Linked DNA regions of Homo sapiens. The protein of the gene in region 2 interacts with the protein of the main gene of each other region in a biochemical or structural test. Each region holds a gene or a part of one and is shown on either strand. Other genes may lie near its edges. The genes, in order: ESPL1, USP28 and RFFL.

Region 1 (3,749 bases), on a different chromosome or scaffold from region 2:
GTTGCTTGGAGGAGCCCCCATACACCTGAGGAAGGAAGCGGAAGGTTGGTATGAGGAGTAGAGATAAAGAGGGCTCCAAGCTGAAGACTGACCCGGAGTCCTGGAGAGCTGACAGAGCCCAGGGAGCACGAGGAAGGACATCCAGAAGGGCCACTGCCCTCTCAGGATAGACTAGGCTGTTTGCTGGCTCGCTAGGCACTGTCCAGAGAGCAGCTTAACAAGGAGGGAGCCAGGACCTCCAGATCTTGCCAAATACCCTAGGCTGGTAGTGAGTCCACAGACCACGTCCCCACCCTACCTCCAGGTCCTTAACTCACACCATCATCCCGCAGCTGCTGCAGAAGAGAGCAGTACCCTCCAAGAAAAGCAAAGAGGCTCAGAATGGCATCAAGTCTATAGCGCCTCTTGGTGCCTCGTTCCAGGCCTGAAAGGAAGAACTGGCAGCTCTCATACAATGCCCGAAGTGGGGGTGATGGTGCCTCCATACTCTTGCTCAGGACAGCTGATGCCTTGATCAGAAGCTTGGCCACTGCCTGAGGTCCTTCCTCCCCAACCTGCAGCAGCTTAACCCCCAGCTGACATAGCTGAAGGCTAGGGGCTAGATTGGTGTTCCTTAGGTAACTGTGAGCCTTCTCCACTGCGCTGATGGCTTTGTCATGGTGGCGGCTCCAGCAAAAGCGACGGCAGTGTTCCAAGGTGAGCTCCAAGAGGCAGAGGGCCCTCTGGGGAGAAAGAAGCCCAGAAGAGCTCCCTCTCTCACCCACCAAGGCTCTGATCACGTGCCTGGAGAGCAGGTCATCTAGGAAATCAGCATCTGCTTCATTTAGACCATGGCCACTGGCATCAAATAGCTGATGGGCAGCTACCGCTCGACAGGCTGTTGGAGAAGCAAAGTGAGGAACCTCACAAGGGGTACTTTCATCCTCCAAGAGTACTAGGAAGCTCAAGGCCTTCAGCCGAGCTGCAAATGCAGCTCGCCGTTCCAACAGGGCTTCTGCCCCCTTCCAAAGCAGAGAAAAGCTGCCCCGAGCCACGGCCTCATAGTCCTGGGGAGCAGCCTCGCGAGAGCACTGCACCAAGCAGGCATGGAGGGGCTGAGCAAGGCGGAGTGTGGCCTCTGGGCTTCCTTGTGCAGCAGCATTCCGCAGTAAGACAAAGAGAATTCGTTCCAGGTAGAGGGGAGGACGCTGTGGGGTAGACACTAAGTAGCCATCACAGGCCAGCTCTGCCAGCTCCAGCAGGCTCCCCAGATGCCTAGGGCAAGCTAGCTTAGCAGTCAGCTGCTGGTTGCAAGCCCTCAGGATGGCATCACAAGCTTGTCTCCTCTCAGCATCAGATCGGCTGCTGGGAAAACCAGCTGGAGGGTTGGACAGGAACTCCTAGGAGTAGAGAAAGATATGAATGGGGCTAGCAAAGGCAGGAAAGAGGTAGAGAAAGTAACTAGAAATAGGGTTACTCAGAGAGGGTCGCCTACTTATCCATCTCTTCAAAAGGCAAACACAAAACAGCTCAGTTTGGAAAGCCAGGTGTATCCCGAGCCAGGCAGCACCCCCACCTTCAAGGCGGGCAGCAACTCTTCAGCCTCCTTCTGGCTGCTTAGCAGAGTCCCAAAGTTGACTCTTTTGAAGCTCCTCATGACACCGGAGAGCTAGGGAAAAGGAGACCAATTAGAGAAGATTGTTAATGAAGCTAACTGGAGGAAGGGAAGAGGGCTGAAGGTCGTGGAAGGAGGCAAAGAATCACATCAGAAATTTCATCGGGGAGAAAACCCACGCCAGGACGCCGTGCTCCCGTTATAAAAGGACGATTCCGCTCTTCCTTCCTCCGGGCAGATCCCCGACCGCACTACCACACCACTCGCCGCGCTACCCCAGAGGCCTCGGCCCAGCCCTTCAGCGGCCCGGGGCAGTCCCAAGGCCTCCCGACACTCCCTCCAGGAGCCACCCACGCCTCTCCTCGCGTCAGCGCTGGGGATCCCCTTCACTTCAGCACGTACCCACGCTCACGAGTCCCTTCCGGCCTTACCGCCCCAGAGCTCGCCCTCTTTCCTAGGTACAGGACTTAACCGCCTGACCAGTACTCCGCGAGGATCCAAAATGTAACCTTCGTTTTCCGCGCCAGACCCTCCTTTCAAATATCCGCGGCTGCCAATCAGCGGGCGCGGCGCAACGCCGGGCGCGCGGCACGCTGGGAGTTGTAGTTTACCCGCCGCGCTGCGCGCTCCCGCGGCGCCCCGGAGGGTCTTGCTGCTCTGCGCGTTAGGGCCTCTTGGGGGTGCGGGTTTCCCCCTTTTTTCCAGTCAGAGCTCAGTTTCTCAGCTACCTGTCGCTTAGTCGCTATCGGTAATGCCACCCCTTTTCCTCCTTTATCTTCAGAGCTCAGGCAAGAGTTTAAGTTTCAAGAGAAGAGAAATAACAAAAAGAACTTAGGAACTCACGCGGTTTGGGTTACTAGAAAAAAAGGGCTTAGACTTCTACGAATTTTTTTTTTGATAGGGTCTTGCTCTGACACACAGGCTGGAGTGCAGTGGCGTGATCACAGCTCACTGCAGCTTCAAACTCCCGGGCTTAAGTGATCCTCCCACCTCAGCCTCCCAAAGTGCTGACTACGGGCGTGCACCGCCACGCCCAACTTCCTACGAAATTATTTTAAAGATGGTTTTCTAGGGGAACTACAATGAGTACCCGTAGCGACCTCCAGCTCTCTCTCTGCCTTCCAGCCTTACTCCTTCTATTGGTTGTATGAGAAAGACAAGATCTGGTGCTCTTCGATGGGGGAGAGAGGGTAGTGGGGTGGGGTGGGAGTTGTGAGTAGCAGGAAGAACTATGGAAATTCATTCCCTGGGATATTTCACAGTCTTTAATGGCTTATGTTTTTAAGTACTAACCACTTCCCCAAACACAGATTCAGCTGTCTCTTTCCTTCCTCCACCAAAGAATTCAGCTCAAAAGTGGTTATCAGCTTGTCGCTGATGAACTCTACTGGATAACTCATCCTTCTCCATCATCATAGAGCTCTTTTATGAGTTGAGAATCTAGCAGGGAAGATTATTTTTGTAAAAAGAAAGAAAAGAAGGCCGGGCGCGGTGGCTCACGCCTATAATCCCAGCACTTTAGGAGGCCGAGGTGGGTGGATCACTTGAGAACCAGCCTGACCAACATGGTGAAACCCCATCTCTACTAAAAATACAAAAATTAGCTGCTGTGGCATCGGGGGCCTGTAGTCCCAGCTACTTGGGAGGATCGCTTGAACCCGGGAAGCGGAGGTTGCAGTGAGCTGAGATCCCGCCACTGTACTGCAGTCTGGGTGACAGAGCAAGACTCTGTCTCAAAAAAGAAAACCAAAAAAAAGGCCGGGCGCGGTGGCTCACGCCTGTAATCCCAGCACTTTGAGAGACCGAGGCGGGCGGATCACGAGGTCAGGAGATCGAGACAATCCTGGCCAACATGGTGAAACCCCGTCTCTACTAAAAATACAAAAAATTAGCCGGGCGTGGTTGCAGGCTCCTGTAGTCCCAGCTACTCGGGAGGCTGCGCTAGGAGAACGGCGTGAACCCGGGAAGCGGAGCTTGCAGTGAGCCAAGATCGCGCCACTGCACTCCAGCCTGGGCTACAGAGCGAGACGACTCTGTCTCAAAAAAAAAAAAACCAAAAAACAAACAAACAAACAAAAAAAACCCAAAAGAAAATTATTCATCACAGTACTCAATTCCTCTTGCTTACACCTTAGCTATCAGTGTTCATTTACCT
Region 2 (3,649 bases):
ACATCACACATTCTTTATGTCAGCTGAAGCCTTATAAAAACCTGCCAGTTTCAGTGAAAATTTAATGCCCTTTTTGCTTTCTCTTGATTTATTGACCTTTCGTTTCCTTTTGTCTCATTAACTGATTTTTAAAACATCAGTAAGTCAGTGATTGGTTCCACAACTCTCATGCCCCTCTGCCCCCAAATGCAAACAGTATTTTTTTTTTTTTTTGAGACGGAGTCTCGCTCTGTTGCCCAGGCTGAAGTGCAGTGGCGCGATCTCTGCTCACTGCAAGCTCCGCCCCCCGGGTTCATGCCATTCTCCAGCCTCAGCCTCCTGAGTAGCTGGGACTACAGGTGCCCACCACCACGCCCGGCTGATGTTTCTGTATTTTTAGTAGAGACGGGGTTTCACAGTGTTCGCCAGGATGGTCTCGATCTCCTGACCTCATGATCCGCCCGCCTCGGTCTGCAAACAGTATTTTTAAGACTTACTGGCAAATAGCATCTTACCAGGCGAGATCTCTCCATGTGTTCTGTTTCATCAAAGAAATTAAATCAATAGTAAAATGAAGCAAGTACTTAACAAGGAAAATAATGCTGGTAATAGTAATAGCTAATGCTAATTGAGCATGCACTATGTGCCAGACTCGGTGCTCAGAACTTAACATAGCATTCTCTCAGTACTTACACAACTCCATGAAGTTTCTATGAGAAGGCTTATACTTGTTAAGTAATTCGTCCAAGGTCACCCAGTGAGGATATGGTACAGTTGGAATTGTATCTAGGCAGTTCTGACCCCAAGAGCCCAAGGCGCCCCTGGTCCTATCTCATAGTTGATGGGCCCATTGCCCTGGATCACAGACTTTCCACTACTCTTATAATGCCTTTTCTAGAACTCTCCTAATGTTTTAAACTTCCAGTCCTCCCTACAGTCTTTCTAAATAGATAATCTTCTTTTCTACTTGACTGAGCTCGCTGATGTCTAAAAAGAGCTCCCTGCCTTCTGTTTTGTCCCCCTCTCCCTACGCCATCTCATCTCTTTTCTCTTATTTCAGTGGAAAAGGTTCCCTTCCTTTTTCCCCCTTTCATTTCTTAGAGATAAACCTAGATTAATGGTTTTTACTAGGGAGAGATTTTGTAATCTAGGAAGCATTTGGCAATGTCTGGAGACTTTGATTGTGACTCTGGAGGGAGGATGCTACTGGAATGTAGTGCGTAGAAGCCGGGAATGCTGCTAAACATCCTGCAGTGTACAGGAGTAAGCCCCTCTAAACAGAGTTATGTGTAAATTGTATAAAATAGTGCTGAGCTTGACAAACTCTGATCTAGATGATGTCTCTCTTCTCTTTCTATTATGTCCCTTCTCCTTAGTCCTAGTCTAACCCCCAGACACCTTCACTGTCTTCTCCCTTGCTACTCACATTATGGTCCACAGACCAGCAGCATTCACATCCCCTAGGATTTAGACATGCAGAAAGTTGAGTGTGCTAGAGCCAGCTTGCTCTGCCTCTCCAGCTGATTTTGTACATCTCTTTCCAGCTCTGTGTTCAATGACCTCGTGTTGATAACTGTGCCAAGGTGGGAATATTTATACCAAGGAAACAAGCATACACTGCCAATCAGCATACCACTGCCTGTACCCCCACTCTAGACCTATTCAATCAGTTTCTGCCTTTTGACAAGATTCTTGGGTGATTCATTTGCATATTACATTTTGAATTTGCATTTTCCATTTTACCGTGCACTTGTCCTCTATCTTGAAACCAAATAACAACAACAAAAGTGTCTATTGCCCAGTCCAGCTGTTGTCTCCACCTTCCTCCTCTTGTTTGCTTTTGGAACAAAGTTTCTAACCCCACCTGTTTCATTTCTAAAACATTTTTCCAGTGACAATGTATTCAGACTCAATATACAAAACTTGGAAAAGACAGACTTGAGCAAGACTAACTCTTAGCTGACAGGAGATTGAGGAAGGTTGGTTCCCAGATTCTGCTACAGAGCTTAAGGTGGCAATAACAGCTTCTGCAAAAGCCAAATAATGAGATGGCCGTGTGGACCAGTCTGGGCTCCAGCAAATGGCTGATTGTTCAGAGGCCTGCAGAGGGACTGACTAGGCAGCAGCAGGTTAGGTTGAAAGGCAGTGAGTGGTTTTATGTAATCAGAATCTGCTCAGCAGCCTACTTTGCCAAGGCAGGATCTCTCCCTCTGTCACCCAGACTGGGGTGCAGCGATGTGATTATAGCTCACTTTGGCCTTGACCTCCTAGGCTCAAGCGATCCTCCCACCTCAGCCTCCTGAGTAGCTGGGACCACAGGCGTGCATCACCGCACTTGGCTGTTTTTTTAATTTTTTATAGAGACGAGGTCTTGCTATGTTGCCCAGGCTGGTCTTGAACTCCTGGGCTCAAGCAGTCCTCCTGCCTTGGCCTCCCAAAGTGTTGGGATTACAGGCATGAGCCACCACACCTGGCCCCCTCATACTTTTATTATTTTATGCTTTTATGATCCCTCATTACCACTTTTTTGCTGTTACTTTTTTCTTGTTTTGTTTTTTGAGACGGAGTTTCGCTCTTGTTGCCCAGGGTGGAGTGCATTGGCACGATCTTGGCTCACTGCATCCTCCGCCTCCTGGGTTCAAGTGATTCTCCTGCCTCAGCCTCCCGAGTGGCTGGGATTACAGGCATGCACCACCATGCCCAGCTAATTTTGTATTTTTAGTAGAGACAGGGTTTCTCCATGTTTGTCAGGTTGGTCTTGAACTCCTGACCCCAGGTGATCTGCCCACCTCAGCCTCCCAAAGTGCTGGGATTACAGGCGTGAACACCTGGCTCCAAATCTACATTTCTAATCCTGAGTTGCAAATGACTTCTATACTCTGTTTCCCAGTGCTTTTTGAACAGGTCTGCTTGAATATCAACCTCCTTGGCTATAAACGTTTGCTTCATACTTATTTTCCCAGGGTTGTTATACTAGGCATGGGAATGTACACTTGTATTACTCGTGTCTGCCATATGCTATGTACCACCCTAAGCACTTTTCCATACATTTTTATTTACAAAAACCCAGCAAGGTGTGAACTATTACCCTATTACTGATGAGGAAACTGAGATGTCTTGTTTGTTTTTTGAGATAGGGTTTCACTCTGTCACCCAAGCTGGAGTGTGGTGACACCGTCAAGGCTCACTGCAGCCTTGACCACCCAGACCCAAGCAATCCTCAGACACTTGAGTAGCTGGGACCACAGGTATGCACCACCACACCTGGCTACTTTTGTTTTATTTTATTTTTTGAGACGGACCGCAGTCTGTTGCCCAGGATGGAGTACAGTGGCGTGAGATCAGCTCACTGTAACCCCCGCCTTCCGGGTTCTATTGATTCTTCTGCCTCTGCCTCCCAAGTAGCTGGGATTACAGGCACATGCCACCACGCCTAATTTTTGTATTTTTAGTAGAGACGGGGTTTCACCATGTTGGCCAGGCTGGTCTTGAACACCTGACCTCCGGTGATCCGTCTGCCTTGGCCTCCCAAAGTGCTGGGATTATAGGCGTGAGCCACCGAACCCAGCCTGTGGTTAATTTTAAAAGTTTTTTTAGCAATGGGGTCTCTCTGTGTTGCCCAGGCTGGTCTCAAACTTATGAACCAAGTCATCCTGCCTCAGCCTCCAAA
Region 3 (3,649 bases), on a different chromosome or scaffold from region 2:
GAGGCAACCAACTGCAATGGAAATGAAAAGCAGAAGTAACAAAATGCCAAATCAAGGCAAGATCAAATGCATAGTACACATGTATGGGGATGGATCCAAATCAATGTCTTCATCAACAACGTTTTCTCTTAGCTTACTGTAGATCCTCACTGGTCTCTCAGGTAGTGTTACCTTGGAATTACCCTGGAATCCTTCAGAGCCTAACCTGTTCCTAAGTAGCTATCTTTCAGATGTCCTGTTTCCTAGAAAGAGAAACGACCTCATGCTGCAAAGCATGCTCTTGTCTTTCCAGTTTGCCCACTGGCTAAATAAAAATCCAAAACTAGTACCTGTCCACAGTTGTGCTTATTGTATATACTTCCTTGCCTAGCAACTATTGATTGCTAGGGCACTAAAGGTGAAAGAGAGAACTCTGGTTGAGCAAGTATTATAAGGAAATTTACATTCTAGGTGCAGCTCACTTATGAACTTGTCAGACAGTACTGCGTAAGTTACTTAATTCTTCCATGCCTGTTTTTCCTGCTTGCAAAGTGCAGCTCTCACCAGAACAGGGGATGTAAGCAGACACTAAGGTCTCTTGAAAATCTCAGAGGAAAAGTACCCACTTAGATCTTGTATGTAGGGTGACCTTTAGGTGCAATCTGGAAATTTCTGGTTAATGACAGGAAGCTTATCATCTTTCATTGAAAAATCTACCTGAAAAGTTTGCTTGGTTTTTTGTTTTTGTTTTCTGAGACAGGATCTCACTCTGTTGCCCAGGCTGGAGTGTGGTGGCATGATCATGGTTCACTGCAGCCTCGACCTCCCAGGCTTAAATGATCCTCCCACCTCAGCCTCTTGAGTAGCTACAGGCACCCACCACCACGCCCAGCTAATTTTTGTATTTTTTGTAGAGACAGGTTTTTGCCATGTTGCCAGGCTAGTCTCAAATGCCTGGGCTCAAATGATCCGCCTGCCTCAGCCTCCCAAAGTGCTGGGATTACCAGGCATGAACCACCACGCCCAGCCAAGGTTCTTTACAGAAAAAGAATTCCTCAAGTTCTTCTCCTGGCTCCTTATACATAGAGTGGAAAAAAAAAAAACACAAGCAAAGGGAAGAATATATAGCAGGAGTTTAAATCTGTCTAGCAGACCAAGAGTCAGAGCTTAGGAAAGAATTAAAGTCCAGCTGCGGAGAAAAACATGTTCAGGCCAAAAAGGGAGTTAAATGATTTTACTGCAGTTAAATTATGCTATCACATTGGCCTTTATGCCTCAGTGGTTGTCAAGAGCTGAATCAGGGGGCCCAGTCCTGGCAAAGGAGGTGATCATAAACAAGTGGCAGCAGCCATCCACATCATGTGTGGGAACCAACAGCACTAGCACTATACCAGCTCTAAGTAACTCAGAGCTCTTTTAGACATGGTATCACGCATTCAGGTCTCTCAACATCCTGGCAAGATCAAAAGTGGTCTGTGATTACTAACCTCATTTCATTGTTGTAGGCTCAACATTTGCCCAAGGGGATCAAGAAGTCAGTGACAAAAGTGGATGTGGAAATTGGATCTTGTAGTTCCTAATTCCCCCATATTGCCCAAGCCCTATAGATCAAGGGTCCCCAACCCCTGGGCCACAGACTGGTACTGGTCCATGGCTTGTTGGGAACCCGGATGCACAGCAGGAGGTGAGTGGCTGGCAAGTAAGCATTACTGCCTGAGCTTTGCCTCCTGTCAGATCAGCGGTGGCATTAGATTCTCATAGGAATGTGAACTCTGTTGTGAACTGCGCATGCGAGGGATCTAGGATGCATGCTCCTTATGAAAATCTAACTAATGCCTGATGATCTGGGTAGAATAGTTTCATCCCAAAACCAACGCACCCCAGTCTGTGGAAAAATTGTCTTCCACAAAACGAGTCCTTGGTGCCAAAAAGGTTAGGGGCCGCTGCTATAAATAACAGAGTCACTTAAGGCACTTATGCAACATCATCACTTCTTATACAACAATTATGTCCACTGGCCTCACTCTAATCCAGTAGTTAGTTGGTCTACCTGTCTACCTTCCCTCTTCTGGGGGCTTTTTGAGGACAGAGACAGTTTATTACTCATTTCTATACTCCCCAGACCTGGGTCATGATTCAGTTGATGTGCTGCTCTTAGCTTACCACTTCCAAGCCCCCCAGGATAATGAAGAAGCAGCATGCAAGTACAGCGTGCCAACTACTCCTGCTTCCAGCCAGTGACTGGTAAGAGAAGCAGTGTCTTTGTCTGTTTCCCCACCCTCCCTTGCCTCCATATAGCCCTTTGCTTTCCTATATTCCTTGTGATGGTTACTAAGGAACTAAGTTTCCAATCCAGCCAATGAAGACTGCAACAAAGGAGTTAAGTTGAAAGACAAATTGGAACAGAACTAAATTTGATGGCTTAATGGTTACTTTTCTCAAAATATTTCTGGAATGATGAACTTTAAAAAATGTCTAACTAGGATATGTGTGTATTAAAAACAAAAAACAAACAAAAAAATTGGTACTGTGCATATCACCTCTGAAGAAAGCCAAAACATGAGTCTGATACCCAGAAAACACTTGGTGCACCAGTAGTCAGAAAGGCTTCACATAATCAAGACACTTAGCCTTATACCCCATTCTCACAACAAAGGCAGGAGAGGAAAATGAAAATGAGCCCTCAAACTGGCACAGACTGGCAGAGACTACAAATGGGCCCTTACCTGCTGATTCTCCTGAACCTGGGCTGGGGGAACAGAGGTGGCTTGTGCAGATGAAGAGGGGAGGTTGGGTGAGGTAGGTGGAACCATGCTGGAGTGAGGCTGGGTCAGGAAGGCCTGCTGCTCAGGAAAGTCTGGGGACAAGGTGGAGGCACGAGTCCTGTCCTCCTGGGAGATTACAGGCTGCTGGCCAAGGACCAAGAGCACCAGCTCTTCTTTCTCCCGGCACATTTCGGTAGAGATGTCATGGAGGCTGAGATAGTCCCTCAAGTCCTTCACCTTCATCTTCATGAGCTCCTCTCGCTGAAAGGCTGTAGCTCGAAACCGTTGGCAGAGAAGGCAGAGGCGGGGCCCATTCCCTACTTGGCTCGAACAGGTCATGCAAAAATTTTTCTTACAGTCCAAGCAGGTCTGCTGCTTAGAGCAAAAGACACAGGAAACCATGTCAGATTGAGAGAACAAGACAGAGAGTGCGATGGGAGCTTCAGAGCTGCCAAGCCCAGCAGGATCTCCTCCAGTCACTCTTACTTTTACTAAGCTCTCTCATATATCTAAGGGTGCAAGCCACTTTCAGATTTTAGATTAAAAGCCACTCGGGTGGAAGACCTCCACTATGTATTGTGTATATCCATGTACAGGACACTTCACATTTATTATTTAATTTGAGGCTTACTTTATTTACTCCTGAAGCACCTGAGGTATTAATTAAGACTACCAGCATAAGAATCAAAAAGCTCTGCATTTTTATTAAGCCTCCCTCCCTTATTTCTTGCAGTATCACCTTGGGTGTGTAATTTAGCCTCTCTGGTGCTCAGTTTCCACATCTGTAAAATGGGGGTGATAACAGTATCTACCTCATGGGGTTGTTGTGAAGATTAAGAGAGAACCCATTTAGCATATCTAACACAAAATGAGTCCTCAACAAGTGTAAGCTGTTTTATTATAGC

What was found.
Region 1: of the proteins of USP28 (region 2) and ESPL1, one has a biochemical effect on the other in vitro, tested with the Homo sapiens proteins (one large-scale study listed by BioGRID).
Region 3: of the proteins of USP28 (region 2) and RFFL, one has a biochemical effect on the other in vitro, tested with the Homo sapiens proteins (one large-scale study listed by BioGRID).

What each region holds. Positions count from the first base shown.
Region 1 is NC_000012.12:53,266,654-53,270,402, reverse strand, and holds the start of ESPL1 (separin), read right to left. Parts: upstream 2,105-3,749; 5' UTR 2,026-2,104; exon of another isoform or gene 1,774-2,025; intron 1,649-1,773; 5' UTR 1,637-1,648; coding exon 1,556-1,636; exon of another isoform or gene 1,475-1,555; intron 1,380-1,474; coding exon 318-1,379; intron 26-317; coding exon 1-25. UniProt on the Homo sapiens protein: Caspase-like protease, which plays a central role in the chromosome segregation by cleaving the SCC1/RAD21 subunit of the cohesin complex at the onset of anaphase. During most of the cell cycle, it is inactivated by different mechanisms.
Region 2 is NC_000011.10:113,869,051-113,872,699, reverse strand, and holds part of USP28 (ubiquitin carboxyl-terminal hydrolase 28), read left to right. Parts: intron 1-3,649. UniProt on the Homo sapiens protein: Deubiquitinase involved in DNA damage response checkpoint and MYC proto-oncogene stability. Involved in DNA damage induced apoptosis by specifically deubiquitinating proteins of the DNA damage pathway such as CLSPN.
Region 3 is NC_000017.11:35,018,666-35,022,314, forward strand, and holds part of RFFL (E3 ubiquitin-protein ligase rififylin), read right to left. Parts: intron 3,117-3,649; coding exon 2,706-3,116; intron 1-2,705.